Linked DNA regions of Homo sapiens. The protein of the gene in region 5 purifies or fractionates together with the protein of the main gene of each other region. This does not show direct contact. Each region holds a gene or a part of one and is shown on either strand. Other genes may lie near its edges.

Region 1 (3,736 bases), on a different chromosome or scaffold from region 5:
GGATGTGTCACTGGAATCATCTCGTGGGCCCTGCGACCTCTGGGTGTGGGAAGCAGAGCTGGCTGACAAGTGCCTTCTGCAAGATGAGTGATACAGGAAGGGCCCCTCCCACTCTCTTGCCTCTTTGTAATTGAGCCCAGATCATTTTTTCCAAAGCATTGGCTTTAAGTTCATCGCTTCCTTACAGTAGGCATAGCTATTTCCCAGGAAGTCAGAGACAAAATATCATTTCTTTGGCCAGAGGCCACCTCGAGGTGTCAGTGACATCAGCACAGGTGGTTTGTGTTGAGGTTTCGCCTGGGGAGAACTCCAGTCACTTGTCCAGTCTGTGATCTGGTTGGGGGAGAGTCTAGAAAGCACAGACCCTGTGTGGGCTGAGCTCCTGCACTTGCCAGTTTGTTCCATTCTGACAAAGTGATACTGATGAGACAGGCCAGAAGCCGCAGAAGGGCCCTTTGATCTTGCTGCATGGAGTTAACAAGCTCTCTTTGCCTCATACACCCACCCTCTACAGTGTGGCTGCAAGAGTAGCTTCAGCTCTTTCTCCCTCTCTCTCCTTTTCTTCTTTTTTTCCCCCCTAGTTTTTCTGAATAGAGGTATTATGGCTACAGCTGTTTTCCCGAATTAACGAATGTCAGGGAGGTACTGAATATATATGATGGTTAGAAGATGATGTTGGGCTCAAAATGCACTACAGATCTTTGGTCTGCAGAAGCCCAATAAAAGTAACCATTTAAACAATGTGTCTTTGTTTTTTTAGCCCCTTCCAAATGACAAAACCTTACTCTACAATCCATTTCCTCCCACGAATGAATCAGATGTCATCCGGAGGCGCACAGCTCATGCTTTTAAAATTTCTAAGATATATAAGGTAAAACATCTTGTGTTGTTATTCTGGATAGTTGGTTCCTTTGTGATACCAAAATGTAATAAACTCCACAATCGGAAGATAAGAGCACCTTCAGTTTCCATGCAGAGAACCTGGCTTGTGGGAGACAAGTCACCTTTTTGAGGCTGGCTGTCCCTTGTATATGTTTTATTGTTCTTGCCTTAGTAGGTTAGAGGCAGGCACATCATACTTAACCAAAATGAAATGCGTAAGTAGTGAGAAATGTTGGCGCTGAGGGTAGAGTCTTTGTTGTCATGAGAGCTGGCTTTAAATTTTACTTGTTGGAGTGTTCCATAGGATAAATGTCAAGCAGGCTGGGCTTGGTAGCTCATACCTGTAATCCCAGCACTTTGGGAGGCCAAGGCAGGTGGATCTCCTCAGCCCAGGAATTCAAAACCAGCCTGGGCACCATGGTGAAACCCCATCACTATTAACAAAAAAAAAAAAAGGAGAGTTCTGTAAATTACTGATTACTCAAATGACTCAAATGTGATTAGCTTCTTGATGCATTTGTAGCTTGCCAGTTGTCAGTTGCCTTAGGCTGGGTATGGTGATTCACGCCTGTAATCTCAGTACTTTAGGAGGTTGAGGCTGGAGTTCAAGACCAGTCTGGGCAACATAGTGAGACCCTGTCTCTACAAAAAAAAAAAAAATATAAAAATTAGCTAGGTGTGGTGGAGCATGCCTGTAGTCCCAGCTGCTCAAGAGGCTGAGATGGGAGGATAGCTTGTGCTCAGGAGTTCAAGGCTGCGGTGAGTATGATTGCACCACTGCACTCCAGGCTGGGTAACATCGAGATTCTGTCTGAGAAAAAAAAGAACTTAGGCTTTAAAGTCCTTGCTTAACATTGATTCTTGAGATATAAGAAGCATAGATTTTCTATCCAGAGAAATGTAAAAAAATCCTGCTGAGACCTTTTATGAGTGAACTTAGTTAAAAGCTCCCAATCTTGGCCGGGCGCAGTGGCTCACGCCTGTAATCCCAGCACTTTGGGAGGCCAAGGTGGGCGGATCACGAGTTCAGGAGATCGAGACCATCCTGGCTAACACGGTGAAACCCCATCTCTACTAAAAATACAAAAAATTAGCCGGGCGTGGTGGTGGGCACCTGTAGTCCCAGCTACCCGGGAGGCTGAGGCGGGAGAATGGCGTGAACCCGGGAGGCGGAGCTTGCCGTGAGCCGAGATTGCGCCACTGCACTCCAGCCTGGGCGGCAGAGCGAGACTGTCTCAAAAAAAAAAAAAAAAAAAAAAAAGGCTCCCAATCTTGAGCCAGGCGCAGCCGTGCACACCTACCTATTGTCCCAGCTACTCAGGAGACTGAGGCAGGATGATTGCCCAGGAGTTCAGGGCTTCAGTGCACGTTGATCATGTCTATGAATGACCACTGCTCTCCTGCCTAGGCAACATAGCAAGATCTCTAAAAAATAAAAAAAAAAGCTTTTATGCATTCCAACTATTTTGAGTCCCAGGGCAGGAAAGATTGTCAAGAAATTTAAATCATTTGAGCCTTGAACTAGGCTAACCTTTTAGCTTAGATGGTGTCTACCTACAGTCAGTTCTTTCAGGACTAGCCCTGGATCCTAAGTCCTGATAGAATAATTATCATCCCTCTGCAGCCTCTACTCTTCATGGATCTTTTGGATGAAAGAACACTCGTGGCAGTAGAACGGCCTCTGGATGACATCATTGCTCAGCTCCCACCACCCATTAAAAAGAAGAAATTTGGAACCTAAAACAGGGCACTGTCTGTGTCCTTCCTTGAACTGTCTACCCTGTTGCTTTTCACAAATCATGGTAATAAAACAAGTTATTCTTGAGGACTAGTCATTATAAATGTTTTCTTCCAAAATAATGGACAGTCATTTCCCTTCATTGAATGAAAATGAATGGAAATTCCAAATGAGGTATTTGTATTGGGGATAATGTGCTCAGTAGCTACAAACTCATCTAATGTTGATTGAGTCCTGCTTATTCTGTAGGCCGCAATCTCAGAAGAAAAGATATTTGTGTTCTGTTCCCTATTACATGCCTAAGGCTTCAGAGAGCTGATAGCCTTCACTTCCTGCCAGCCCCCAGCCCATGGAACTGCGTAGGAATCTGCCCATCCTCGCCCTGGAGGGCAGAGGACCGTAATTACTTACCCAGGATAGCCTGACCACTAATAACCATAATCAGCCTTAGAGTTCAAGGAAGAATTTCAACTCCAGCATTATAAGGGAGTGCTCCATCTAAAAAATAGATGCCTTTGACCTTTGACAGTCAGCCGTTAATTTTATTTAAAAGTAAAAAAAGCTTGGGTTATCAGTCCCATTAACTGCCTTTTTACCTGTTATGTGCTGGTTTCAAAAGGTATGGAAGGGCCAGGCATGGTGGCTCATGCCTGTAATCCCAGCATTTTAGGAGGCCAAGGTGGGAGCATCCTTGAGTCCAGAGACCAACCCGGGCAACATAGGGAGACCCTATCCCTAAAGAAATACAATATGAAAAAAAAGATACAGGAGCTGGGCACACATCAGTAGTCCCAGCTACTCGAGAGGCTCAGTGGAGCCCAGGAGCTTGAGACCATAGTGTGCTATGATCATACTGGTGAATAGCCACTGCACTCCAGCCTGGGCAACATAGTGTGAGACCCTGTCTCTTTAAAAAAAAAAAAAAAAAAAAGGGTAAGGAAACACTGGGCAGGAATTTTGTTAGGGATTAAGAGTAGAGATGGGGACCCGAGAGCCCACCATGTATTTCACATTTTTCATTCTCTTCTACCTGCTCTGACATTGTTATTCCCACGTGTGTTATCAACTGGCCAGTTTTAATGTGATCTTTAAATTAGAAAGTGAAGAACTCTAGTT
Region 2 (4,299 bases), on a different chromosome or scaffold from region 5:
ATGTCAGCGCAAGTCTGAGGATGTTCCTCTGAGCTAATCCATGATGTTACCAACCATTCTTCACTGGGGTCTTGGGGAGGAGGGATCTCTCCCTCAGGAAGGTTTTCCTCATCGTCGTCCCTTTCTCCTGCCTTTTGAGAATCTCTATGGGCACCAGATGCCTCCATTTCTTTGCGCTTGTCTATGATCTTCTGTGTGAAATCCACAAGGTACATATCCTCTACTTCTTCATCTAGGACATAAAAATCAGTTTTCAGACATCAAAAAGGAAAATCACACATGGAATGGACAAGAAGCAGTCACATTCATTGCCTGGTGGCCCCATCACCCCTGACAGCTCATCAGCCAATGCCTCCACTCCCCAAATGTTTACAAAGACACACAGCTACCTTGGGAACTGACATATACTACACAAAAAAATCTTGAAAAAGCCTAAAGTTTTCTATTGCCTCATCAATACACTACCTGAGTGAGCAAAACCATCTTAGAATGTCATTTTAAGATAACACAACAGTCTGATTTTATGCAACTCATCCAACCAATTACATCATACGGAAGCAAAACTGCATTTTCCGTGTCATCAGATCAGGACAGTAGAACTTCTTGCTTTAGGCGTTATATATCTGTCTCACCATGTGGGCTGGATCACTAACCCTGATTATACTGCTGTGGTATGGTAAGTGTTTTAAAGGTCATAATACAGGTAAAAGAAGTCATCTGAGTTCTTGTCAAGCCAATGAACACCAATTCCAGGCAAGGCATAGAGCCCGGCCCTGCAGGGCATATACAGATATGCAAGACACCCTCTGCCTGCAGGGCTTATGGTCCACTCGAGGAGCTAAAACACACACTGAAAGTTAAACAACAATCCATGACTTACCTAATTTAACCCAGGATAGCTCATGTAGCACAAATAATGTATACCTAAAGTTTCACTATGCTGGATTTAGGACACAGTCATTTGAGTCTTTTTCTCTGATGACAGAGATTAAGCTACATTGAACCCACATTAAGCTCCCTATTACCAGGGGTGGTGTTTTCCCCACCTTAGGGTGAAGAAAAACTGAGGCTCCAAAATATAACTTGCCCAAACTTGCAGGTCTGACATATCTATCAGGAGGTAGGCTTGCTGGCTTTGACAAAACCAGGTCTCTACCTTCACACTCCTTTGGACCTGATTTCTATATTAACAACATAAGTAAAGTTTGAATCAAAACAGAAAAGACTTTAATAAAATAAACTTTTTTTTTCTTTTTCTGAATCTGAATCTCACTCCGTCGCCCAGGCTAGAGTGCAGTGGCACTATCTTGGCTCACTGCAACCTCCGCCTCGCGGGTTCAAGTGATTCTCCTGCCTCAGCGTCCTGAGTAGCTGAGACTACAGGTGCCTGCCACCACGCCTGGCAAATTTTTGTATTTTTAGTAGAGATGGAGTTTCGCCATGTTGGCTGGGCTGGTCTCAAACTCCTGACCTTGTGATCCACCCGCCTCGGCCTCCCAAAATGCTGGGATTACAGGCATGAGCCACCACGCCTAGCCTGAAATAAACTTATTTTTTAAAACCATGAAATACCTGAAATGGAGAGGAAATGTCTGAGTTATAAGGCCATAGGCTAGTGAGGCCTCCTGGTAGGCGGCCATCCTGCTGCCCCTTCAGGAAGAAGGCAAAACCTCTCCCACAGTACCTAGCTTTGTTGAGTGTCTGACCTTCCTGTGCCAGGCTCCTGCTATACAGGGAAAGTGCCCCTGCTGTCTGGGAAGAAGCGGTCAGGGACCTAGGACCAGCCTGGCCTCTCTCCTACTGTACCTGGGCCCCAGCCATGCTAGGCTAGGTGACTCTGTTGACCTCTGGCCCTGCCCTCCTCAGCTGGTCTGCTTACCAATCTACCCCTGCAGGATCCCTTTCTCCAGCTTGCCAAAGCTAAGCCCAACTTCTCCCAAAAGACTTCCCTGATTACATATTCACTCTCCCTGCCTCATAAAATCTCTTCTACTGTTGTCTAATTATGGATTGGGTTTTTTCTGGGGGATATGAGAAAAGGGAGTTTTTTGTTTTTTTTTTAGAGATAGGGTCACACTCTGTCACCCAGGCTGGATCATAGCTTACTGCACCGAGGATGCAGTGGCATGATCAACAGCTCACTGTAATCTCAAAGTCCTGAGCTCAAGCCTCAGGCTCCTAAATAATGGGACTATAGGCATGAACCACCATGTCCAGCTAATTTTTAAATTACTTTTTGTAGAGACAGAGTCTCACCATGTTGCCCGGGCTGGTCTCAAACTCCTGCCATCAGGTGATCTGCCTGCCTTGGCCTCCCAAAGTGCTGGAATTACAAGCGTAAGCCACTACACCCAAACAGATTTAAAGCAATTATAAGCACAGCACAGAAAAAAAATTGAAAATAGAGGGAAAATAGGGAAAGAAGAAACATAACTCTAGCACCTAACAGAACCACAATTCCACCCAGCCCAACCCACCCTGTTTTAGCACAGCTGTAATTGTAGGTAATTGCGGCCTACTCAGACATTGTTCCCTAACTTTGCTTTGTTCTGTGTCATTTTCCTCCACCAGATGACCCTGCCTTGAGGGCAGAGACAGAGGATCTGGCTTCCAGTACTTGTTTGTCCCTTCCAGGCACCTAACATGCTGCCAGGCACCCACTAGACAATTGGTAAATTATTGCTGATTTTCTTGTCTCTGTGCAGCCATGGAAAGTAAAATTTTGACGTCTAAATTTTCTCTCTACTCCTACAGTTATTTTAACAAGTAATGTAATATCAAAGGGCTGTATGCATTATAGAAAATGAAGTAGAAATAACAAATTTTATTTACCTATAAAGTCTCCTTTAGTCATTTTTTCATATAATTTGGCTTTTTCTTCCAATTTTTCCCTAGGAGAAAAAAAATACAAGTATTAGAAATGGTCTTATAACTGTTCATCCTGGTTGCCCCCACACTCCCTGCCTGACAGGTACCATCTGCCCATGAGGCCCAGCCTGTCAAGACAACCACAACCAGCACAGACCACACCATCCTGAGGAGACCCTCAGACCACCCTGCCCCATGTCTGCTCTGCCAAGGAAAACAGAAGCTCCGTGAGTGCATGGCCTGTGTCCTCTTATTTATTACTTGGTCCCAGGGCCTAAAATAACACTTGGCACACAGTAGGTTCTCAATCAATATTTGATGAATGAATAAGTGGATCAACTGACTTAAGAATCCAACAACTTAATTTAACTGCCAACTTAAAACAAATGTCAACATTCCAACAAAGCAGCCTCTCTGCTCACAGTAATTCTGATGACATGTATTTTTCAGTGGTACAGACCATGAGAGGGTAAGCAATTCTTTATTCTGGAAATACTTAATGATGGTAAAGAGAAGCCCCAAAGAGTTCTCTTGTGGATGATCTGCGAGTTCTCTTGTGAATGACCACTCTTAATCACAATGTCAGAAACATTCCTCTTTTATTTTACACATCCATTCACCAAGTACTTATTGCACACCTCCTACCTGCCAAGCACTGTTTTAGGCACTGAGGACTCACAGGAACAAGAAAAAGTCCCAGCTTCCTGGGAGTTCCCATTCTAGAGATGGAGAAGGACAATAAAGAAAGGAATGAAAAGGAGGACCTGAGACTGTGAGAAGAGCTGTGAGGGGAAGAAACGCATGCCAGCAGAGAGGCCCCTTGACATGCAGTAATGCAGTGCATGGTGGACCGGCTCACTCATATCAGGCTTCTAAGACCCCTATTTTGGAGGGCTCTTACTGTAACTAGCTGGTCATCAGAGGATCTTACTGTTTTAATGAAAAGAAAACTAGAAAAAATTTAAAAGTCAAACAGAACACAAAGCAACAAGTGTCAGGTTAGAGTGAGTGGGCAGGACACTAACTGAGAGAGGGCAGTCAGGGGAAACCTCTCTGAACATGAAAACGGAGCCATGGCTTGCACAGCAAGAAGCAGCCAACCACAGGAGGATCTGGGGGCAGGGAAGGCAGGTCAGAAAAAGGAAAGATTAAGTGAGGATGAGCTTGACATTTTCAAGAGAGACCAGTAGAGCAGAGGGTGCTGAGCAAAATAGAGAATGGTGCAAAATAGAGACAGAGACAGGCAGGGATGAGAGCACGTGAGAAAGGATATGAAACTTGGTGCAGTGTAGCAACAGTTTTCAGGGGTTAGGAACAGACTACAAATGGATAATTGAGATCAAGGAAGGTGTCAGGGAAACGGCCGCTGGATTTAGTGGATGAGGATGTCACTAGTGACTTTAAAGAACAGTTTCTTCTGTTGAGTTAGAA
Region 3 (4,299 bases), on a different chromosome or scaffold from region 5:
AACTCCTGGTCAAGTGCCCCGATTTTGTTACTCTCAATCTTGAGTCACAGAACTGAGAGAGCTGGAAGGAATGTAGAGACATTCCCTACTTTGAGGGTGTGTCCTCTTGGAGCATCAGTTTGACTTATAAACTAAGGAGAGACAGTTTTCTTGTATTAAAACAAACTTGCACATATATTATGGTATAAAATTAAAAAGTCATATGTACTGTAACAAGATATCTTAGAAAAAAAAGGCACATGTTAAGGTGCTCTCATCTTATTAAACCCTTCCTTTTATTTTACATCTTTGAGGCTTAGTGTATGAGGCATGAAAAGGATGTTGCTCTGAACCCACTTTCCAGCATTTTGTTAAGGTCCTGCTATATGATGACATATAGTACTCTCAAATTTGAAATAGAGGTATCATCACCCACCTTTTAGGATCCTCAGGATCAAATTAGGCAATGTATGTGACTGGTGTAGTATGGCCTAGTATGTAATAAGTGGCTTAATAAATGTTATTATTGAGTGAATCTGGACTCGTTTTACCATTTAATTTGGCATTTAATATGGTAAATCAATTTGTAAGAAAAGTATTCTATGTTTGGTTTAGTAATTGGCAGTTTGCTACGCAAGGACAAAGTGTGGTGATGATAACTCATCAATGGAGAAAGATTAGTTAGTGCTGGGTTTCTTGGGTAACGGGTTAAGTTTGTGGTTCACAGGTGTTTAGAAAAATTAGATTGTCACCTCTTGTTGGTCACAGAATGATTACAATACTTTGCATTCGTGCCACAATAGTTTTTAGAGGGTTTTTGTACGTTATGTAGCTGAGCATTCCATTTGGTCTTTGGAGCCTGGGGGAAGAGGACCTTTAATGAGGACAAGAAGATAGGAAAGTGCAAAAATACAAATGGAGGGACTCTATCTAGATGGATGCTGTTTTTAAGAGTTCCTCAAGTTTATGTGTGTAAACTGAGGCAGAAATGTTAATTATATTCTCTACCAAAGCCACATAGTAAAGTGACTGAGCCACCTAGGAACTGATGCTGCTATTTGATTGTCTTCAAACTTTTGAAAGTCTTCCGACTTTTCTGCTTTTCCTTCTCTAACAGACCTTGTCTGCTATTGGCTATCACAGTAAATGTGTTTATACTGCTTTGCTGTCACTGCAATTAAGATGACCCTATACAGCTTAGTACTTGTTGAATGAAGCACATGGCATTTCAGACATTGGACAGGGTGTCTGAGTTGGGTATCTGCATTACCATCCCTTAGAGATGTAGGGCAGTTCACATGTGCTGTGCAGTGGTCTGTCTTGAGGTCTTGCTAACAGTTAAACTTCCTAAGAAGTAAAGGTTGCAGATAGATCTGATTGGCAGAAATAGAAGTTTCTGTGTATTAGGACTTAATTGATTTGTTATAAATACTGTATGTGATTTTTTGTAAAATGAATACATTTTGTTCACTGTTATCTGTGAAACACACATGCAGTGGCAGTGAGATAGATGAAGAAATGGATTAGGAGACTAATTGCAGAATGAAACTTGAAACTTGGCATACTTTTTGGTGTCTAGAGTTCAGTATTTCTCAGAGCAGATTTTGATCCATTAGTGGATTATGTAATAAACTTAGTGGATTGTAACATTAAAAAAAAAACAAAATAGAATGGAAAGTATCAGAGTACTACTAGCCGTGGGAAGTTTCTCTGTGAAGCTTGTTTCTATATGTGTATTTTTATGAGAGTGTAGTGACTGCATGTAAAACTCCTCTTTTTCTGGGATTTTAGTCTAAAAAGTCATTACTTTAATTGCTGTACAAATTCAGACTTCTCATCACCTGAATGTGCTTTTTTCTGTCTTCATCCCATCTGTACAACTCCTTGCTTTTATAAATTATGCACATGTGCCATTCAGATTCTCCCTCAGCCTTCTGATTGTTTCTGGATCAAATGCTGATGATGGATCAAATGCTGATAAGCTTTTCTCATAAGACAGGTTTCAGTATTCGTTGCTTAACTCAGTTTGCCCTTCATGGTGGAAAAGACTCCTTAGTCCGAGAAATCACCTCCTTGGGGTATTCACTTCTGATGCCTTCAGGAATTGAGATTTTCCAGTTACAAATATATAAACTAAATTTTTTAGCCTACCTTTTTATTACTTAATATATTTATCTGTATAATCTGTGCTGGGCACTTAAGAGGAAACACAACTGACTGTGACTAAAGTGTAAAAGAAGAAATACATTTCATATTTGCCGTGTCTAATGCAGGGTATGACATGTGTCTTAAGGGAAAGAAGTTTCCGTGGAGGAGGTGGTATTTGAGGTGGGCCTTAAAGCATGGATAGGATTTTTAACCAATGAAAATTGAGGTGAGTAGGAAAGGTCCCCTTCCAAGTGAAGGAAAAGCAAAAGCAAAATAGGAAAATGGGTGTATAGGGAGTGTTAACCTAAGGATGGAATTGGAGATAAGACTAGAGAAGGTGGGTTGAAGGCAAATTGTGGATGCTTTTAAATGCCATAGAACTGTTTATATTGATTTATTCTCTGGAGAGTCATTGAAGTTTTTTTGATCACAGGAATAACATGTTTAGATAGTAAATGCCAACAGAAGTTTCTCATCTATAATCAGTAGCACTAAACTCTTGGTTTGAAAAATATTTAGTATGGGTAATACTTGGAGTATCAGTTTTCATTAAAATGTACATTGGTTATATACACTTCTGGTCTGATGTGTTACCTTTTTAAATATGCTTATCCTGCTGAATAAAGACCATCCAACCTGAAAAATAAATGAGTCCTGAGTTCTTTAAGTTCAATAAATTGGAGTAATATTTAGGTTTAGACCAGTTATCCTTAAAGTTGGTCATAAATGCTGTAGATATTCCTTCCGCCTGCCCCTGCTTGCTTCTACCAAAAAATACAGAGATTTGCAGATGCAGAAATTAAGGCTTTGACTATGTTATGCTTGACATAGGCTATGTAAATTTCTAAAATTTCTTTGTGCTTTTTAATGGAAATTCAAATTGGCAATAAAGCATACGCATATTTGGACCTGTCTTTGTTTCACACATCGAGAAACTTCCATTTAGATAGTTTTTATTTGGGAAAACCAAGAGTAGAAGAAAGATTTCATGGAATCTTTTTTTCGTTTTGTTTTGTTTGAGATGAGTCTCTGTCGCCCAGGCTGGAGTGTAGTGGCAGGATCTCGGCTCACTGCAACCTCTGCCTCCCGGGTTCAAGCAATTCTCTGCCACCTGAGTAGTTGGGATTACTAGCGCCCACCACCACGCCCGGCTAATTTTTTTTGTATTTTTAGTAGAGACGGGGTTTCACCATGTTGGCCAGGCTGGTCTTGAACTCCTGACCTCGTGATCCACCTGCCTCAGCCTCCCAAAGTGCTGGGATTACAGGCGTGAGCCACCACACTCAGCCTTCTTGGAATCTTTTTAAAAAGATGAATCTTTTCCTGCTGAGATGGTACTAGGTTAATGTACTTCCCCCAACTCTCCTTGCCTGAAATAGGTGTTTGTATTTATAACCTTATACAGAAATTATTTTTGCCCCTGGAATCATTCAAAGGTAGCTTTAGAAATTCATGTAACTGAAACGGGGACCTAGAACACTCCTAAAATTGAGGTTTCAATGTTTCAACAAGTTAAATGAGACCATCAGACTTTGTACTTTGGCTTTTAATTGTAACTTCTCTTTTGTGTTTATTAGTACATTTCTAAGGACTTGCAAGATATATTTCTAAGGACTTGCAAGATGTGTATTATTTTTTTCTGTAAGTAGGTTACCTTTTTTTGTTAGACTGCATTTCATCTGTGTCCAATGAATCAAATTCTTTAAATGTAAAATCCCCCTAGGATAACTAAAAGAAAAAAATGGAAAGTGCTTTTTAAGTCTACTCCCTGACACTCTTTATGCACTGGTAACGTTGTGGTTGTCATTGGTTTTTCTTGAATTAAGACAGATTTTTAGGTGTCTTGGGCTGTGTGCATGCCCATGCGTGCTGTAGAGCTAAGATCCTGCACTATTAAGAAGATATTCTCTTTTCTATGGTATTGGCTTGTTTTACAGTGAAAGAATGGATTTCTCAGAACTTTATGCTAAAAACATATAGGCTGGTGAGCCGTAATTTAAAAAAACACGGAAGAGAAGTTCTGAAATCATAATAAATACTCAGCATTATAAACTGATGTAGTGCTTTTAAGTTAGGGTCATTGTCTTTTTGTTGGGAAGACATGAGCTGTTAACATCACTTTTGAAATGAAAGAAGTCTTGTGGCATTTGCCACTTGAGTGAGACTTTTGTC
Region 4 (4,299 bases), on a different chromosome or scaffold from region 5:
GTTTTAATGTTTGCCTTTGGTTCCTTGCTTTGTATTTAGAGAATCTGTTTAGTTCCCCAGATGAATCTCTGTTTTTAGGGATTGTGACAGTTTTAACATAGGTGGAAATGAAAGATCACTGGTGCAGGGCGACGAGCATGTTTGACACTGATACTTTTCCAATTCCTGGGTATTTTGAAGGTCCAGAGGGAGCCAACCTGTTCATCTACCACCTGCCCCAGGAGTTTGGTGATCAGGACCTGCTGCAGATGTTTATGCCCTTTGGGAATGTCGTGTCTGCCAAGGTTTTCATAGACAAGCAGACAAACCTGAGCAAGTGTTTTGGTATGTTGGCTTCTCTCTGGTGTCAGGATGGGATTAGTATTTTACCACTGAGAAAGAAGGAGCTCACTGCAGAAAGATCTGAATATGAGTTTGTGGTGTTGTTTTAACTTGGCCATGGGCAGGTCATTATGACCTCTTTTTGAGCCCCAGTTTCTCATTGCTGTAGTGGAGGTAAGGATTTCTACCCACACTGTTGCTCCAGAGAGAAAAATAATATATGGAAAATGGTTTGCAAAAAAACCTTTAAACAGTCCAGGTTTGTGCCTGTAAGTCCCAGTACTTGGGGAGGCCAAGGCAGGAGGATCGCTTGAGCCTAGGAGTTCGAGACCAGCCTGAGCAACAGAGTGAGACCTCATGGCTACAAAAAATTAGTCAGACGTGGTGGCGTGTACCTGTGTTCCCAGCTACTTGAGGCTGAGGTGAGAGGATCACCTGAGCCCAGGAGGCCAAGGTTGCAGTGAACCATGGTCACACCACTGTACTCCACCCTGGGTGACAGAGCAAGACCCTGTCTCAAGAAAAAGAAAAAAACCTTTAAATTACCATGTAGCTGTTAAGTGGTACTATTAAGAACCTAATTTATTTCGTATGACATAATGTCCAGATTTCTTGTCCCTGCTGAATAAAATTGGGATTTGAGATGAAGCACATAAGGTATCTTGCATAAGGAGGACTGAGAATCTCCTTGCCTCATTATGTCCCTCACCTAGGTTTCTGCTTGGACACACAGGTTTTGTAAGTTACGACAATCCTGTTTCGGCCCAAGCTGCCATCCAGTCCATGAACGGCTTTCAGATTGGCATGAAGCGGCTTAAAGTGCAGCTCAAACGTTCGAAGAATGACAGCAAGCCCTACTGAGCGTGCTCCCCTCTGAGACTGGAGTGAGAGGGTCTTCTGGTAAGTGGGGGAGGAGCACCCTTAATGATTCGAAGCCCTGAGGCTGTGTGTTGACAGCCCTGGACCCTGATCCCTGCCACTCTCGCAGGCACAGCTTGCCCTGAAGACTCGGCTACTGCCTTCTGTGGGAGTTTCGCTTCGTACAGAGGACAAGTTTGTGCTTTGGTTTCCAGTGTTTTACTTTGGAGTTTAGGTGCCATATCCTGAGGTTTTTTTTGTTTTTGTTTTTGTTTCTCCTTTATTTAAAGTTTGCTGTGTTTGTAACCAGTGTGTGTTGAGAAGGACCAACACCAAACCACCCTGGGGAAGGGGGACAGGGAAACATTTAACACAGACGATGATCAGGATTTGCCCCAAACCACCCCAAGAGAGAGGACTGAGTGGAACAAAAAAGTGACCCCCAGAACCTCTCTTAGTGTGAGGGTGGGTAGAATGAGAACTGACACCTGGGAGCTGTGGGGAGCAGAGCGGCTTTGGGGAAGAGTGGAGTGACTAGACACCTAATGCCCTGGCAGCTGGAGACTCAAACTCCTGTACAGCTACCTTCTGGGAAATAGTTTTTGACACCTATTTTTCAGATTCTTGTCCGGAATTTCTGCTGCTCTTTTCAAAAAAGGGCATTAACAATTCTCTGGAAATAAAGCACCTGTTAGCCTGACATATGCAAAAAGCAGGGCGGCATCACCCATTACGAGCTCCCCCAGCCAGCAGTCAGTATTGGATTGGCCTTGCCTGGCTGGTGGCAGTTTGGGAGAAACAGCCAAAGAGGTTAGTTTATTTCAACACCAAATTAGACCATGGCCCATTTCCAACGGGTCTCTTTAAAGGCCTCTATGGAATACATTGCCTGGTTTCCTTCTTTGCAGTTCACCACAGCAAGGAATGTCACCTCCATCCCAAGCCACCATTTTCTCATGAAGGCAAATCCAAGAAGGGCTTGCAGTTCTTGCTGAAGGGGGTACCATTTGTGGGCAGAGTGATCAATACCATCTAGTTGGGGGAGGAGGAGCTTATTTCTTGGTGTACTTGAATCAGAAGGTCCCTGCAAGCCAGTATGCTTCATTTGCCAGTGGCCAGAAATTCTCCCTTGCCTCCTTGATTGAGGTGTCCCAGATGTAGTATTCCCACAGGGGTCTGGCAGGCCCCTCCTGTAACCACTCCAGTCACATTTTCTGCTCTTGAGGCAGAGGTGACATCAGGACGTTTACAGCCTCCACATGAATTGAGTGTTCATTTACCTCAGTATTACCGTGTTCATTTTTGTCCTCGTGCTACAGTTAGCTCCCTGCCGCCTCTTGCAGGTCTTACTTCAGCTCTTGCCTGTGACCCACACAGCTTCTGGGCTCTGCCTCTGCTCTAAGAAGTGCTGTGGGGGTAGAGAACCAGGAAGGACATGCTGTTGGGAATGTACACCTGGGCAGAGGTGGCCCTGTTAAGATGTGACTGTAGCCACAGCCAGGGATGGGATCCCTGGGTCTCTGGAATCTGAAACCTCAACAAATACCAGTCTTGACCCCTAGCAGCAGAGATAAGAATAAAGGGGTTGGTTTGCTATTAAGTCAGATGGGGGCTCTCTCCTTGTCATGCTGTCCCTGTGGGTAACAGACAGGGATTGACCATCTTACTGTTGTACAGGTAGCTGGTGGTGTTGGATTATCCCATTGAAGCTGGGACAGCTGTTCCTTTCTCATAGTGATAACTTGGGTCTGTTGTCCTCTAAGGAACGTGAAACATACACTTCTTAAGCTGAACCACGTAAACTTGAAATTCTGCGCACTGGGAGAAATGTGTCCTGTGTTTCAAAGGATAAAACTGTTCTAAAGGCTTCCAGGGTCATGATGGGATTTTTTAAATAAATGCAAAAAATAAAAATAAAAAAGAAAAAAGAAAACAAAAAAAAAAAAGAAAAAAATGCTAGGTTGGGGAGGCGCTGTTCTGAATCCCAACCGGCTGGAACCAAGAATGTCGTTTCTATTTTTATAGAAGTTTTATACAGCTCCGGGGTGGAGAATATTTATTACCTAAATTATATCTCTGGAAAAGGCCAGGATTTTGTAGAATCCAGAATGTGATTGTTATACACACAGGGTGCTGTGTATGATTGAAACTACTGACTTTCTGTGGCCCGTTTGCAGCCCAGCTAACCTGCCCAAGGGGAAGGTGTTAATGCTGTGAATTGGCAGAGGAGAGAGCTGTGCTCCATAGGGTGCTGCCGGTGCTGTGCTCCCTAGCCTTCTGTTCTGTCTTCCTCCTTAGCCAGAACGCCACTCCCTTCCCACATCCCCTTCTTCTCTCCGCCTTCCCCCATCTCACCATTATTTGTCCATGGATTTGTCCTGGGCTCTGGGACCTTATGAAACCCCTTTCCTAATGACATAAGAGGCCAAGGTGCAATCCACCCACCTTTGATACCAGACCCTGAGGGCTTCATACCTGCTGATGGGTTTTCTTTTCTAAAAGGAATGCTCGCCCCAGCAGGGTCCTGGGCTGCTTGAGCAGCCAGCTGGTGAGACCATGCACTTCTCTGTTCTCTCCTCCCCCTGCCCAGTGAGTTAGCACAGCAGTAGCACTGCCCTTGAGCACAGTTCTTTCCCCAGGCCAAAGATGGTTTTGTGAAGAAGCTGCTCCCCTACAAGTCTCACGTGTGAAAGGGCTCAGCTCAGAGTGGAGACTCGCTGTCAAGTCTTAAGCAATCCTTTTCTGTTGTGTGAAGGTTTCACTTACAATGTGTTTTCTGCTGTAGTTTTGTTTCTTACTTGGGTTACATCATGAAATTGATTTGCCTTGAATGCAGCCAGACCACTGTCTCCTGGGTTCCCCTTGAGTGGCCAGGGCCTGGATGGAAGCTAAGAGCTTGGATTTCTGGGAACAAAGGGCCATCCCCATAAGATTGAGCAGAAATTCTGGTCCTCTTCCCTGAAAAATTTTCCCCACCCCAGCCAGCATCTTCTGCTTCCCCTTGGGTTGTGACCAGGGAGTGGGGAGAGAGGCTGAGGCTCTGCTCCCCTGGAGACCTTCTCTTAGGAGTTGGGTGCTTCATGGAAAATCCAAGCCTTAGGTTCCCTTCTGTCTCTGGCA
Region 5 (4,299 bases):
GATTTGTTTTCTGAAAGTAAATGAGTCCTCACCCCAGGAGTCCGCTGGGGGAACCAGTGCCTCAGTCATTTCTCCCAGCCAGGCTATGTTAGCTGGAGGGCCAGGCAGAAACCGTCTCCAGGTGGCACCTCAGCGTCCTCATGCTGTGCTTCTCCTCATGTCCAAACCTTTTAGAGAAGGACATGTTGAATGTGTCATTGTAAAAGTAGGTCTCATTCTGAAACCTCTAATTAATATGCCAAAAAATATTTTGTTAAGCCTTTGAAATGGAATTTTTTCGTATGTGAAAAGAATGTAAATACATCTATATGTGCCAAGCATACGCACTGCACCTGCAGCTCCATATTTAAAAGGTGATGATATTCTTGTCTTTCAGATGCTTTGTTTGCAGGCAAAGCAAGCAGCAGCTGGAGGAGGAGCAGAAGAAAGCACTGTATGGTTTGGAAGCTGCGGGTAATTCCTAAAACACAGGCTCAGTGTTGTCACTGTGTGTGCTGGAGTGCGGGTTTCTGTCCTCTCTCAGGGCACTGCCTCTTCTCCCTGCCCACCTGTGCTTTTCCTTTTTCCTGTCTGGCACCAGGCATCCATTTCTTCTTAGCCCCAGGCAGCGTCAGGTCACTGTTACTTGCCGTGTGTGGCTGTGTGGAGCAGTGGGTTTTGTGAAAGGCCCCGTTACCCTTTCTGAAACGCTGTTGTGGTGCTGAGTCTGGACTCCTGTCCCAGGTGCTCTAGAATGTGGGGGCAGCAGATGTCCCATTGAGGGCTTGCTTGGTGACCACCTCAGGCCCTGGCAACCACACAGTCTCTGTCCAGCAGAGGCAGCCTAGGCAGTGTACAGTGAGTGGGTATGGCCATCTGCCGATGAAACTTTATTTATGGACACTGAAATTTAAGTTTCATAGAATTTCCACATGTCACAAAATATTATTATTTTGATTTTTTTCTCTTTCTCTTCTTTTTTTTTTTTTTTTTTTTGGATGGAGTTTCACTCTTGTCGCCCAGGCTAGAGTGCAGGGGCACAATATCAGCTCACTGCAACCTCCGCCTCCCGAGTTCAAGCGATTCTCCTCCCTCAGCCTCCCTAGTAGCTGGGACTACAGGCATGTGCCACCATGCCCAGCTAATCTTTGTATTTTTAGTAAAGATGGGGTTTCACCATGTTGGCCAGGCTGGTCTCAAACTCCTGACCTCAGGTGATCTGACTGCCTCAGCCTCCTAAAGTGCTGGGACCACAGGTCTGAGCCACCATGCCCAGTCAATAATATTTATTTATTTATTGGGACAGAGTCTTGTTCCATCACCCAGGCTGGATTGCAGTGGCGCGATCTCGGCTCACTGCAACCTCCACCTTCTGGGTTCAAGCGATTCTCCTTCCTTAGCCTCCTGAGTAGCTGGGATTACAGGCGCCTGCCGCCATACCTGGCTAATTTTTTTTTTTTTTTTTTTTTTTTTTAAGACAGAGTTTTACTCTTGTTGCCCAGTCTGGAGTGCAATGGCGCAATCTCAGCTCACTGCAACCTCTGCCTTCCGGGTTCAAGCAGTTCTCCTGCCTCAGCTTCCCCAGCAGCTGGGATTACAGGCATGCACCGCCACGCCTGGCTAATTTTTGTATTTTTAGTAGAGATGGTTTTCACCATGTTGGCCAGGCTGGTCTCGAACTCCTGACCTCAGGTGATCTGCCCGCCTCGGCCTCCCAAAGTGCTGGGATTACAGGCGTGAGCCACCGCGCCAGACCTTTTTCAAGGATTTAAAAACGTGAAAAGCATTCTTAGCTCTCAGGCCACACACAGACGGGCGGCGGGCCGGATCTGACACACAGCCTTGGTTTGCTGACCCTTGTTCTAAATTGTCCAAAAGTCACCAAGTGAGGAGAGGGACAACAGTCCTGCCTTCTGGGAGGTGATCCTTTGGGTACCACTTCCTGCGGGGAGCGGACAGTTCCGTGGTGGATGTTTTTGGTGTTGAGCTGAAGAGTCGATTGCATGAAGTGTCTGCTAAATGCATGAGCAGGTGAGAGCCCGAATGGCCTCCCACCGTCCTGGTGCAGGGCGCTGCCCGGCGCCATTGTAACTGTGACATCTCCGTGGTTCTTTGTGCTTCAGAGGACGTGGAGGAGTGGCAAGTCGTCTGTGGGAAGTTTCTGGCCATCAATGCCACAAACATGTCCTGTGCTTGTCGCCGGAGCCCCAGGGGCCTCTCCCCGGCTGCCCACTTGGGAGACGGGTCTTCTGACCTCATCCTCATCCGGAAATGCTCCAGGTTCAATTTTCTGAGATTTCTCATCAGGCACACCAACCAGCAGGACCAGGTAAGTGGGGTGCTCTTGCATGGAGCCTCCACTGGCGAGTAATTTATGTTCCAGCAGTCCCTGGTTTATGTGTTGTAGGAATTCATTATTTAATTCAAGGGAAGGAAGGGCAAACTTTTTTTTTTTTAATTTCACAAACTTTAAACTCCTGGTTACAACTACTCCTTGTAAAATATCATTTAAAACGATAAATTTTTGAGGCCAGATGCGGTGGCTCATGCCTGTAATCCCAGCACTTTGGGAGGCTGAGGCAGGCGGATCACCCGAGGTCAGGAGTTTGAGACCAGCCTGGGCAACATGGTGAAACCTCATCTCTACTAAAAATACAAAAAAGCCAGGCGTGGTGGCGTGCGCCTGTAATCCCAGCTACTCGGGAGGCTGAAGCATGAGAATCGCTTGAACCCAGGAGGTGGAGGCTACAGTGAGCTGAGATCACGCAACTGCACTCCAGCCTGGGTGACAGAGTGAGACTCCATCTCAAATATATGTGTGTGTGTGTGTGTGTGTGTGTGTGTATGTATGTATACATGTGTGTGTATGTGTATATATACATATATGTGTATATACATACACATACATACATATACACACATACATACATATACACACACATACATACATACATATACACACACATGTATTTGAGCACAGAAACTAAGAGGTATGAATCTTTATAATACAACTTCTTACCCGTTGTTTCTCTTCCTATTTAAAAACAGAACAAAGCGACACAGTAAAGATGTAAGTGGCCCTTGCAGGCCACTGAAAATAGACTCTTTAGGCTCCCAGAAATGGGTTCTGTTCGGACCCTTCTACCACATCTTTCTGTAGCCTATGCAGAGGAAGACCCGAGTCTAGTCATGTTGGGGGAAGCGGAACTTTTGGTCACAGTCTCCAAATTTAGTCACATTTCTTTTTTTACTTAAGTTCTATTTAAGATCTAGTCTAATGCTATTTTTATGTGGCTTTTTAAGTAGTGCTTGTTAAAAAGAGAATACAAAATTCTAATAATCACTGCTAATTATTTATCAGAATTCTGTAAAAAGCGTTCGTCATTGTAGATAAGCTGTGGTTTCTAAAAGCATTAGAAGTCATTTTGACAAGTGCCGCGGAAGGTGGGCACCGGGGAAGGTAGGCGCCGGGGAAGGTGGGCGCCGGGAAAGGTGGGTGCCAGGTTTCCCTTCATCTCTGAGCTGTCAGTTCAGCTGGAAAGGGAACTCCAGGGGCCTGCACAAGCAGTCGCATCCTCCGAGAAGGGCCGTGTGTGCACCCAGGCCTGACAGCGCTCGCTGTCAGGCCTGGGGTGTTCTGCTGCCCCACCCAGACGATGACGTTTAGAGCTGAATGGTCCCTCTCACTGTTTCTTGGTAGTTTGACTTCACTTTTGTTGAAGTTTATCGCGTCAAGAAATTCCAGTTTACGTCGAAGCACATGGAGGATGAGGACAGCGACCTCAAGGAGGGGGGGAAGAAGCGCTTTGGGCACATTTGCAGCAGCCACCCCTCCTGCTGCTGCACCGTCTCCAACAGCTCCTGGAACTGCGACGGGGAGGTCCTGCACAGCCCTGCCATCGAGGTCAGGTGCGTGCAGGGGTCCTCCAGCCACCAGCGCCATCCCCTTGAGCCCTGAGGTGTCTGTCACAAGCTGCCCCACCCAGGGTGGGGGGTTCCCTGGGGCTTTATAAACACAAAACGTAAGAATGTTTTATAAATGCACTTTTCTCTCCCTATGTCAAATATCGAATGAGATGCCGTTACCCACATTCTGGAAAGATGCCAGGGTGCCGAGTCCTCAGCATTTTGTTTTGCAGATAATTTTCATGGGTGTTTGAAGCTCCTCCATTTCATTCTTTTCCTCTTCCACACCCTGTGCTCCAGGCTGGCATTGGGCTCTTTGCCCTGGCATTCTCTCTCTCTTCTCCTAAATAATTCAAAAGGTGGGAGGCTGAGGCGGGCAGATCACTTGAGATCAGGAGTTCAAGACCAGCCTCG
Region 6 (4,299 bases), on a different chromosome or scaffold from region 5:
CTTTGGTTTGGTTTCAGATTTTTGCTGTGAAAAATTATACTTTGGCTGGGCACTGTGGCTCTCGCCTGTAATTCCAGCACTTTGGGAGGCTGAGGCGGGTGGATCACCTTAGGTCAGGAGTTCAAGACCAGCTTGGCCAATATGGTGAAACCCTGTCGCTACTAAAAACAAAAATTAGCCAGGCATGGTGGCAGGTGCCTGTAATCCCAGTTACTCGAGAAGCTGAGACAGGAGAATCGCTTGAACCTGGGAGGCAGAGGTTGTAGTGAGCTGAGACCATGCCATTGCACTCCAGCCTGTGTGACAAGAGCTAAACTCCGTCTCAAAAAAAAAATATATATATATAATATATATAAATATGAATAATATATATTATTTATTTTTAAAATATAAATATATATTTATATGATATATATAAATATATATTTATATATATCATATAAATATATAAAAATATAAATATATAGTATATAAAAAATGTATAAAATATATATAATATATATATTATATGTATGCTTTAATTCTCAGAAAATCTTGAGTAAATCACAGTCCCTTGGCTTGAGTAGTCTTCCCCTAAATCGAGTTAGTAGCAAAGCCTTAGTCTTATTATCTATTGATGTAATAATACTTCCTGTTTTTTCAACCAATTGTGGGAGATACTTATCCCTGATCTTTCAGAATTGTTGAAATGCCAGATGGCAATCTACGTTTAAAATGCTGTGGCTATACTAAAAGTTTGCAGATGGGCATGTACTGTGGAATATGGTGATCTGTTAGATAACTCGCAAAAGTGCATTGAGGAAATAGAAGGGAAAGAGTGCATCAGAAGGGTCGTATTAGTACCCGGTTTTTTGTCTGGTCTGGGAGGAGAGCTGGAATAGGTGGAAAGAGTACGAAAGTACTTGAATTTAAAAAGGCAAACTGTTGAAAGAATGCTTTAAAGATTATTTCTCCTAGTTTGGTCTGTTAATAGGATTTCCATTTGATTTCTCATCTAAAGTGGCACACTTTTTTTTGTTTGTTTTTTGAGACGGAGTCTTAGTCTATTGCCCAGGCTGGAGTGTCGTGGCCCCATAGTGGCTCACTGCAACCTCTGCCTCCTGGGTTCAAGCAATTCTCCTCTCTCAGCCTCCCAAGTATCCCTCCTGTAATCCCCTTTTGGGATTACAGGCGCGTGCCACCATGCCCAGCTAATTTTTGTATTTTTAGTAGAGATGATATTTCAGCGTGTTGGCCAGGCTGGTCTTAAACTGCTGACCTCAAGTGATCCACCCACCTCTGCCTTTAAAAGTGCTGGGATTATAGGTGTGAGCCACTGTGCCCAGCATAAAGTGGTACATTCTGACAGTCAGAAGCCCTTATCAAAAGGATGCTGGAACAGCTGGCATAAACTGGGACATGTGTACCCTGTGCGTAGACTACCTGCATGAGAATATCTTATGGTTCTCAGTAACACAAAATCTTGAGCCCTATCTTATTTATAGAAGCCACTTGCACGATATTTCCTGAATTTGTTCAACCTCTAAGTCCCTTTTTCTAATTACCTAGAAAAACAGTGATTCCTGTCGTTCCTGTTGTTGAGGACCATTATTCTCAACAATATAGTCTGGAGAAAGTAGCACTGAGAATATTTTCCAAGGTTGCTTTCTAGTAGCTATATAATGTGAATGGAGGCACCTTGTAGGAAACAGAAATATATAGCTGTCATGCTGCTGTGAGAAACTGGAGAACTATTTCACCTTATATATTGTTTTCCCAGATATATATATATAAAATATTATATATTATTATATATAGTAATATATATATATAAAATATTATATATTATTATATATAGTAATATATAATATATAAATATATAAATAGACTATATAAATATATATAGTAATATATAATATATAAATATACTATATAAATATATATAGTAATATATAAATATATTATATAAATATATATAGTAATATATAAATATATTATATAAATATATATAGTAATATATATAAATAAGTATATTTATACATATTATATATATTTGTATATTTATACATATTATATATATTTATATATAATATATAATATATATTTATATTTTATTTATATATAGTATATAATATATATTATATATATTTATATATAATATATATTATATATTTATATATTTTATTTATATATAATATATATTTTATATTTATATATATTTATTTATATTTTTATATATTTATATATAAATATATAAATACATTAGAACTCACCAAGTCATAAATACATACACACATAAACATATACATATTTATATATATTTATATATTTTTATATATTTTATATATTTATATAAAAATTTATATAAATATATAATACATAAAATATATAATATATAAGATATATCTTATATATTATATAAAATATGTAATATATAAGATATATCTTATATATTATATAAAATATGTAATATATAAGATATATCTTATATATTATATAAAATATGTAATATATAAGATATATCTTATATATTATATAAAATATGTAATATATAAGATATATCTTATATATTATATAAAATATGTAATATATAAGATATATCTTATATATTATATAAAATATGTAATATATAAGATATATTTTATATAGCATATAAAATATTATAAATATATTTATATTTATATAATATATAATATATTTATATAAAATATTTATTATAAATATATATCATATAATTATAATATATATCATATAATTATATATAATATAAAATATATAATAAATTACAATATGATACATAAATATATATAATATGTAAATATATATTTATATATATAAACATGTATATGTTTGTGTGTGTGTATGTATTTATGACTTGGTGAGTTCTAATGTATTCTCCTATATTCCTTGATGTGTTTGGTACCACACCAAGTCCACGAAACCAAAACATGAATATATGTTAGACTTTTGAAAGAGGAATAAAATTGGATTTCCATTAATTATGTTAAATGAGCATACTTGCTTAAAATGTTTTCTCACCAATGTAATCATTTCATTATAGTTAAATGATTATACTTAGTAGAGAAATTTACTTTGTTTGGATAATTTTAGAAGATGACAATTTTGCTTCTACGTTATATAAACTAATTTTAATGTTAATTAAATTTTATTTAATGTTAATTAAATGTTAATGTTAATAAAGTCATTAAAGCAGTAATGTGTCTAAGGCTTTTTTTTGTTTGTTTGTTTGTTTTGAGGCAGAGCCTCACTCTGTCGCCCAGGCTGGAGTGTGCACTGGCGCGATCTCAGCTCACTGCAACCTCTGCCTGCCAGGTTCAAGCGATTCTCTTTCCTCAGCCTCCAGAGTAGCTGGGATTACAGGCCCCTGCCACTGTGCCCAGCTAATCTTTGTATTTTTAGTAGAGACAGGGTTTCACCATGTTGGCCAGGCTGGTGTCGAACTTCCGACTTCGTGAACCACCCGCCTCAGCCTCCCAAAGTGCTGGCATTACAGGCATGAACCACTGTGCCCAGCCCTATCTAAGGCTATTTAACAGTGGAATAATTACTAAACTTGTACACTTTTTTTTTTTTTTTTAATCAGATCACTAAGGAGGAAGAGCGAGAGAAGAAGTTTTCTAGAAGGCTAAATCACAGTCCTCCCCAGTCAAGCTCCCGATACAGGGAAAATAGGTGAGCAGTTCATTGAACCATACTCAGTGTTTCGATGTAAGTTATCTTTTATACAAATGTTTAGACTTGGGTTATCTTTTACGCAGAGGCAAGTAATATCTACTCTTTTATTGGTCTAGGAAAATATAACTAGGTCCGTTTCTACCATGAAAATCTAGGTCAGATTTGTAGATCTTGGGAGTGAGTTTAGAACAGTGCTTGACATATATTAGCTGCTTATCTTTTTATTCCTAACTTCAGATTCCAGTAGAATCTTAATGTGTGGGTGTTTTTTTTTTGCCTGCTGTTTCCATTTAGTGTGATTAAATTGTTTTTCTCATTCAGGCTTCAAAAGCACTTAGAATACAATGCATGTGATACATGTCTGTAAGTGAGATTATATGTACGGGATAGTATGTTCTATATGTACTCTAAGTCTTATATACAGATGCCTTTATCTACAGATGCCTAATTGTATAGTTGCCAATGTGTAATAAGACTAAGGGTTAAGGCTTTAAAAAGATTGTTTTTCATTTAAAAGGGATTTAAAGTACTGAATATTAAGCTCAGTTTTTTCAGTTGTCTGATGGTAGGATAGAAAGTTAAGTTACAAGAATTAAATGTAACTTTTGCATTTAATTAGCTTTT
Region 7 (3,753 bases), on a different chromosome or scaffold from region 5:
CAACCTCCTCCTCCCAGGTTCAAGTGATTCTCCTCCCTCAGCCTCCCAAGTAGCTGGGATTATAGGTGCCCGTCACCATGCCCGGCTAATTTTTTTGTATTTTTAGTAGAGACGGGGTCTCAATGTTGGTCAGGCTGGTCTCTAACTCCTGACCTCAAGTGATCTGCCTGCCTCAGCCTCCCAAAGTGTTGGAATTACAGGCGTGAGCCAGTGTGCCTGTCCTTAATTTTTACATTTTTAGTAGAGATGAGGTTTCACCATGTTGGCCAGGCTGGTCTCAAACTCCCGATCTCAACTGATCTGCCTGCCTTGGCCTCCCAAAGTGCTGGGATTACAGGCGTGAACCACTGCACCTGGCTGAATCTCTGATTTTTATGTATTTATTATTTATTTATTTATTTATTTTTTGAGATGGAGTCTCGCTCTATTGTCTAGGCTGGAGTGCAGTGGTGTGATCTTGGCTTACAGCAACCGTTGCCTCCCAGGCTCATATCCTCCTACCTCAGCCTCCCAAGTAGCTGGGATTACAGGTGTGTTCGAACATGCCCAGCTAATTTTTGTATTTTTTGTAGAAACAGGGTTTTACCATGTTGCCTAGACTGGTCTCAAACTCCTGGGCTCAAGTGATTCACTCACCTCAGCCTCCGAAAGTGCTCGGATTATAGGCTTGTGCCACCTTGCCTGGCCTCTGGACTTATTTTTATTTTTATTTTTTTTGGAGACAGAGTGTCTCTGTCACCCAGGCTGGAGTGCAGTGGCGTGATCTCAGCTCACTGCAACCTCTGTCTCCTGGGTTCAAGCGATTCTTCTGCCTCAGCCTCCCGAGTAGCTGGTATTACAGGCGCCGGCCACCACGCCTGGCTAATTTTTGTATTTTTATTAGAGGCAGGGTTTCACCATGTTGGCCAGGCTGGTCTCAAACTCCTGACTTCAGGTGATCCGCCTGCCTCAGCCTCCCAAAGTTCTGGGATTACAGACATGAGCCACCATGCCCAGCCCTGGCCTCTGATTTTTAAGTGAGATCATTGCATTCTTTTCTCATCATCCTCCCCATTCCCATTGCTCCCCGTAAGAGTGACTTTGTCTTGCTCTGGCTTGTGGTTGGATAAGAACCAAAGCTCACGAAGCTGTGGGGCACCCTGTTTACCACAGGATCGAAGAGTCAGACCAAGGCCCTTATGCCATCATCCTGGCTCCCACCCGTGAGTTGGCTCAACAGATTGAGGAAGAGACCATCAAGTTTGGGAAACCGCTAGGTATCCGCACTGTGGCTGTCATTGGTGGCATCTCCAGAGAAGACCAGGGCTTCAGGCTGCGCATGGGTTGTGAGGTTTGTTTTTCTATCTAGCAGCCAGCCTGCTGTCTGGGAAGGCTATCTTGGGGCTTTGTTTCTAGTTTCTGGAATATATGTGCAGTAGTATGAAGAAAGGAGCTGGTTTATATATATGTGCTATTTATTGAGAACTTATGCACCAGGGTTTATATCACAAATAGTATATATCATATATATTAGCTCATTAATTCTCACAATAATGTATGAGAGTGGTATTTCCTTGTTATAGATCAAGCTGAGGTTCAGGTTAATAACTGCCTGAAGTCACAAACAGCTGGCAATGGGCAGAGCTGAGACTCATATCCATAGCCTGTGCTTTTAGTTACTCTTTACTCTGCCAGACCAAATCTTTGACTTTGTGCATTGCCTTCATCTCAGGAAAGTGGAGGAGAGCTCTTTATGAGAAGTCTGCTGTAGAAATTTAGTCTTTTTACAATTTTTTAAAAAAATTTAGTCTTTATACAACCCCCTTCATAGTACCCCTTAGTCTCTCCCATCTAAGAAGTTCCTTCTTCAGGATCTGAAATGATTTGCCAAAAAAAAAAAAGTTTCTACTGATTTTGCCTCCTCTGTCTAATCCTTGCACCTTACTCAGAGACCTCATTCATTCCTGAGAAAATCCAGGCAACAAGTGATTTCATGCCAGTTTGCAGGAGCCTTTACTGCTAAACATAACCAGAGGTTGGGGTCCAAGTTCCTCAGCATTGGAGGTCTGTCACCCAAGTGGGTGGATAGTTCACAGGAAAGAAAAGAAGGGGCACCTGCTGGGCTATAAATGATTATACTGTACTCCTCAGATTGTGATTGCTACCCCTGGGCGTTTGATTGATGTGCTGGAGAACCGCTACCTGGTGCTGAGCCGCTGTACCTATGTGGTTCTGGATGAGGCAGATAGGATGATTGACATGGGCTTTGAGCCAGATGTCCAGAAGATCCTGGAGCACATGCCTGTCAGCAACCAGAAGCCAGACACGGATGAGGCTGAGGACCCTGAGAAGATGCTGGCCAACTTTGAGTCGGGAAAACATAAGTACCGCCAAGTAAGGCTGCTTCCCTGGGCTGGGAAAAGTTGGACAGGCCAAGGCGGGTGGATCACTTGAGCTCAGGAGTTTGAGACCAGCCTGGGCAACATGGCGAAACTCCGTCTCTACAAAAATTTAAAAAATTAGCTGGGCATTGGTGGTGCACACCTGTGGTGCCAGCCACTCAGGAGGCTGAGGTGGGAGGACCTCTTAAGCCTGGGAGGCAGTGGTCGCAGTGAGCTGAGGTCGTGCCACTACTCCATTCCATCCTGGGCAACAGAGTGAGGCCCTGTCTCAAAAAAAAAGAAAAGTTGTACAAGGTTGCCAACCTCCTTTTGGGCCTTTCTTGCCTTAGGTGGGCTCAGAGTACATGTTTCTAGAATGAAGTGTGCCTAGGTACAGTCCTCTGACAGTCCTAAGGGTGGAGCCATTTAGCTTAGCCCTGGAAAAACGATTCCAAAGACTCATGCTGCTACCGGGACCACAGGTGCTAGCAAATGCTCTCAATCCTTCCTGTCATCATAAGATGGAAAGTGCCTTGATGAGCAGGTACTCAGGAAGGATGGGAATTCAGAGGACACTATTTTCTAAGGTGGTGGCTATCAAAGCCTATACTGTGGCCCATTTTAGATTCTTTAGTCTGGGCTGACCTGCCTTCGGTGACAGTGGGATATATGATTATTCCTGCCTGGGTGCAGGGCTGAGCCTCCTGTTTTCGTAGACAGTCATGTTCACGGCCACCATGCCCCCAGCGGTGGAGCGTCTGGCCAGGAGCTATCTTCGGCGACCTGCTGTGGTGTACATTGGCTCCGCAGGCAAGCCCCATGAGCGTGTGGAACAGAAGGTCTTCCTCATGTCAGAGTCAGAAAAGAGGTATGAGGGCAGCTGAGCCAGGGGAAACAGGGTGGAGAATAAAATGGCTCTGAGAACTTTTTTAGTGCAGGTGCAGGGCAGGGCAATTGCTCTGCTGTGTTGAAGAGCTGCTGTTTTCTTGGGCAGAATGTCATGGGCATTAAAGACCCTGAAAGTAGTGTTCATAGATGAGGGTTGGGCATTTCACTTGGAGTGGGAGGTATTATGCATCTTGTTTTTCTCCTCTTCCTTCCAGGAAAAAGCTGCTGGCAATCTTGGAGCAAGGCTTTGACCCACCCATCATTATTTTTGTCAACCAGAAGAAGGGCTGCGACGTGTTGGCCAAATCCCTGGAGAAGATGGGGGTGTGTCTGGCAGGGGAGAACAAAGTCTAGCCTCTGTGGCACTGCTTTCTGAATCTAGCAGGGCCCCCTAGGCTCTTCCTTTCAAGTCTCACCCTTTCTTTAGCCTGTCCAGCAATCAACAAGTTAGGACCAGGGTGAAGGGTGGTTTGAGGGAATAAAGAGAATGGAATCAATTGCTGGG

What was found.
Region 1: the proteins of CERK (region 5) and UTP4 purify together in Homo sapiens (affinity purification with mass spectrometry; one large-scale study listed by BioGRID and IntAct). This does not show direct contact.
Region 2: the proteins of CERK (region 5) and CCDC174 purify together in Homo sapiens (affinity purification with mass spectrometry; one large-scale study listed by BioGRID and IntAct). This does not show direct contact.
Region 3: the proteins of CERK (region 5) and WDR43 purify together in Homo sapiens (affinity purification with mass spectrometry; one large-scale study listed by BioGRID and IntAct). This does not show direct contact.
Region 4: the proteins of CERK (region 5) and CELF1 purify together in Homo sapiens (affinity purification with mass spectrometry; one large-scale study listed by BioGRID and IntAct). This does not show direct contact.
Region 6: the proteins of CERK (region 5) and RBM26 purify together in Homo sapiens (affinity purification with mass spectrometry; one large-scale study listed by BioGRID and IntAct). This does not show direct contact.
Region 7: the proteins of CERK (region 5) and DDX23 purify together in Homo sapiens (affinity purification with mass spectrometry; one large-scale study listed by BioGRID and IntAct). This does not show direct contact.

The regions. Positions count from the first base shown.
Region 1 is NC_000016.10:69,166,315-69,170,050, forward strand, and holds the end of UTP4 (U3 small nucleolar RNA-associated protein 4 homolog), read left to right. Parts: intron 1-760; coding exon 761-871; intron 872-2,506; coding exon 2,507-2,623; 3' UTR 2,624-2,707; downstream 2,708-3,736. UniProt on the Homo sapiens protein: Ribosome biogenesis factor. Involved in nucleolar processing of pre-18S ribosomal RNA. Part of the small subunit (SSU) processome, first precursor of the small eukaryotic ribosomal subunit.
Region 2 is NC_000003.12:14,657,463-14,661,761, reverse strand, and holds part of CCDC174 (coiled-coil domain-containing protein 174), read right to left. Parts: intron 3,051-4,299; exon of another isoform or gene 2,972-3,050; intron 2,892-2,971; coding exon 2,833-2,891; intron 2,672-2,832; exon of another isoform or gene 2,572-2,671; intron 233-2,571; coding exon 55-232; intron 1-54. UniProt on the Homo sapiens protein: Probably involved in neuronal development.
Region 3 is NC_000002.12:28,897,066-28,901,364, forward strand, and holds part of WDR43 (WD repeat-containing protein 43), read left to right. Parts: intron 1-4,299. UniProt on the Homo sapiens protein: Ribosome biogenesis factor that coordinates hyperactive transcription and ribogenesis. Part of the small subunit (SSU) processome, first precursor of the small eukaryotic ribosomal subunit.
Region 4 is NC_000011.10:47,469,113-47,473,411, reverse strand, and holds part of CELF1 (CUGBP Elav-like family member 1), read left to right. Parts: intron 1-180; coding exon 181-324; intron 325-1,034; coding exon of another isoform or gene 1,035-1,054; coding exon 1,055-1,182; 3' UTR 1,183-4,299. UniProt on the Homo sapiens protein: RNA-binding protein implicated in the regulation of several post-transcriptional events. Involved in pre-mRNA alternative splicing, mRNA translation and stability.
Region 5 is NC_000022.11:46,689,581-46,693,879, reverse strand, and holds part of CERK (ceramide kinase), read left to right. Parts: intron 1-376; coding exon 377-453; intron 454-2,102; coding exon 2,103-2,308; intron 2,309-3,679; coding exon 3,680-3,888; intron 3,889-4,299. UniProt on the Homo sapiens protein: Catalyzes specifically the phosphorylation of ceramide to form ceramide 1-phosphate.
Region 6 is NC_000013.11:79,371,215-79,375,513, reverse strand, and holds part of RBM26 (RNA-binding protein 26), read left to right. Parts: intron 1-3,583; coding exon 3,584-3,672; intron 3,673-4,299. UniProt on the Homo sapiens protein: May be involved in the turnover of nuclear polyadenylated (pA+) RNA.
Region 7 is NC_000012.12:48,831,897-48,835,649, reverse strand, and holds part of DDX23 (probable ATP-dependent RNA helicase DDX23), read left to right. Parts: intron 1-1,152; coding exon 1,153-1,330; intron 1,331-2,130; coding exon 2,131-2,373; intron 2,374-3,076; coding exon 3,077-3,228; intron 3,229-3,463; coding exon 3,464-3,572; intron 3,573-3,753. UniProt on the Homo sapiens protein: Involved in pre-mRNA splicing and its phosphorylated form (by SRPK2) is required for spliceosomal B complex formation.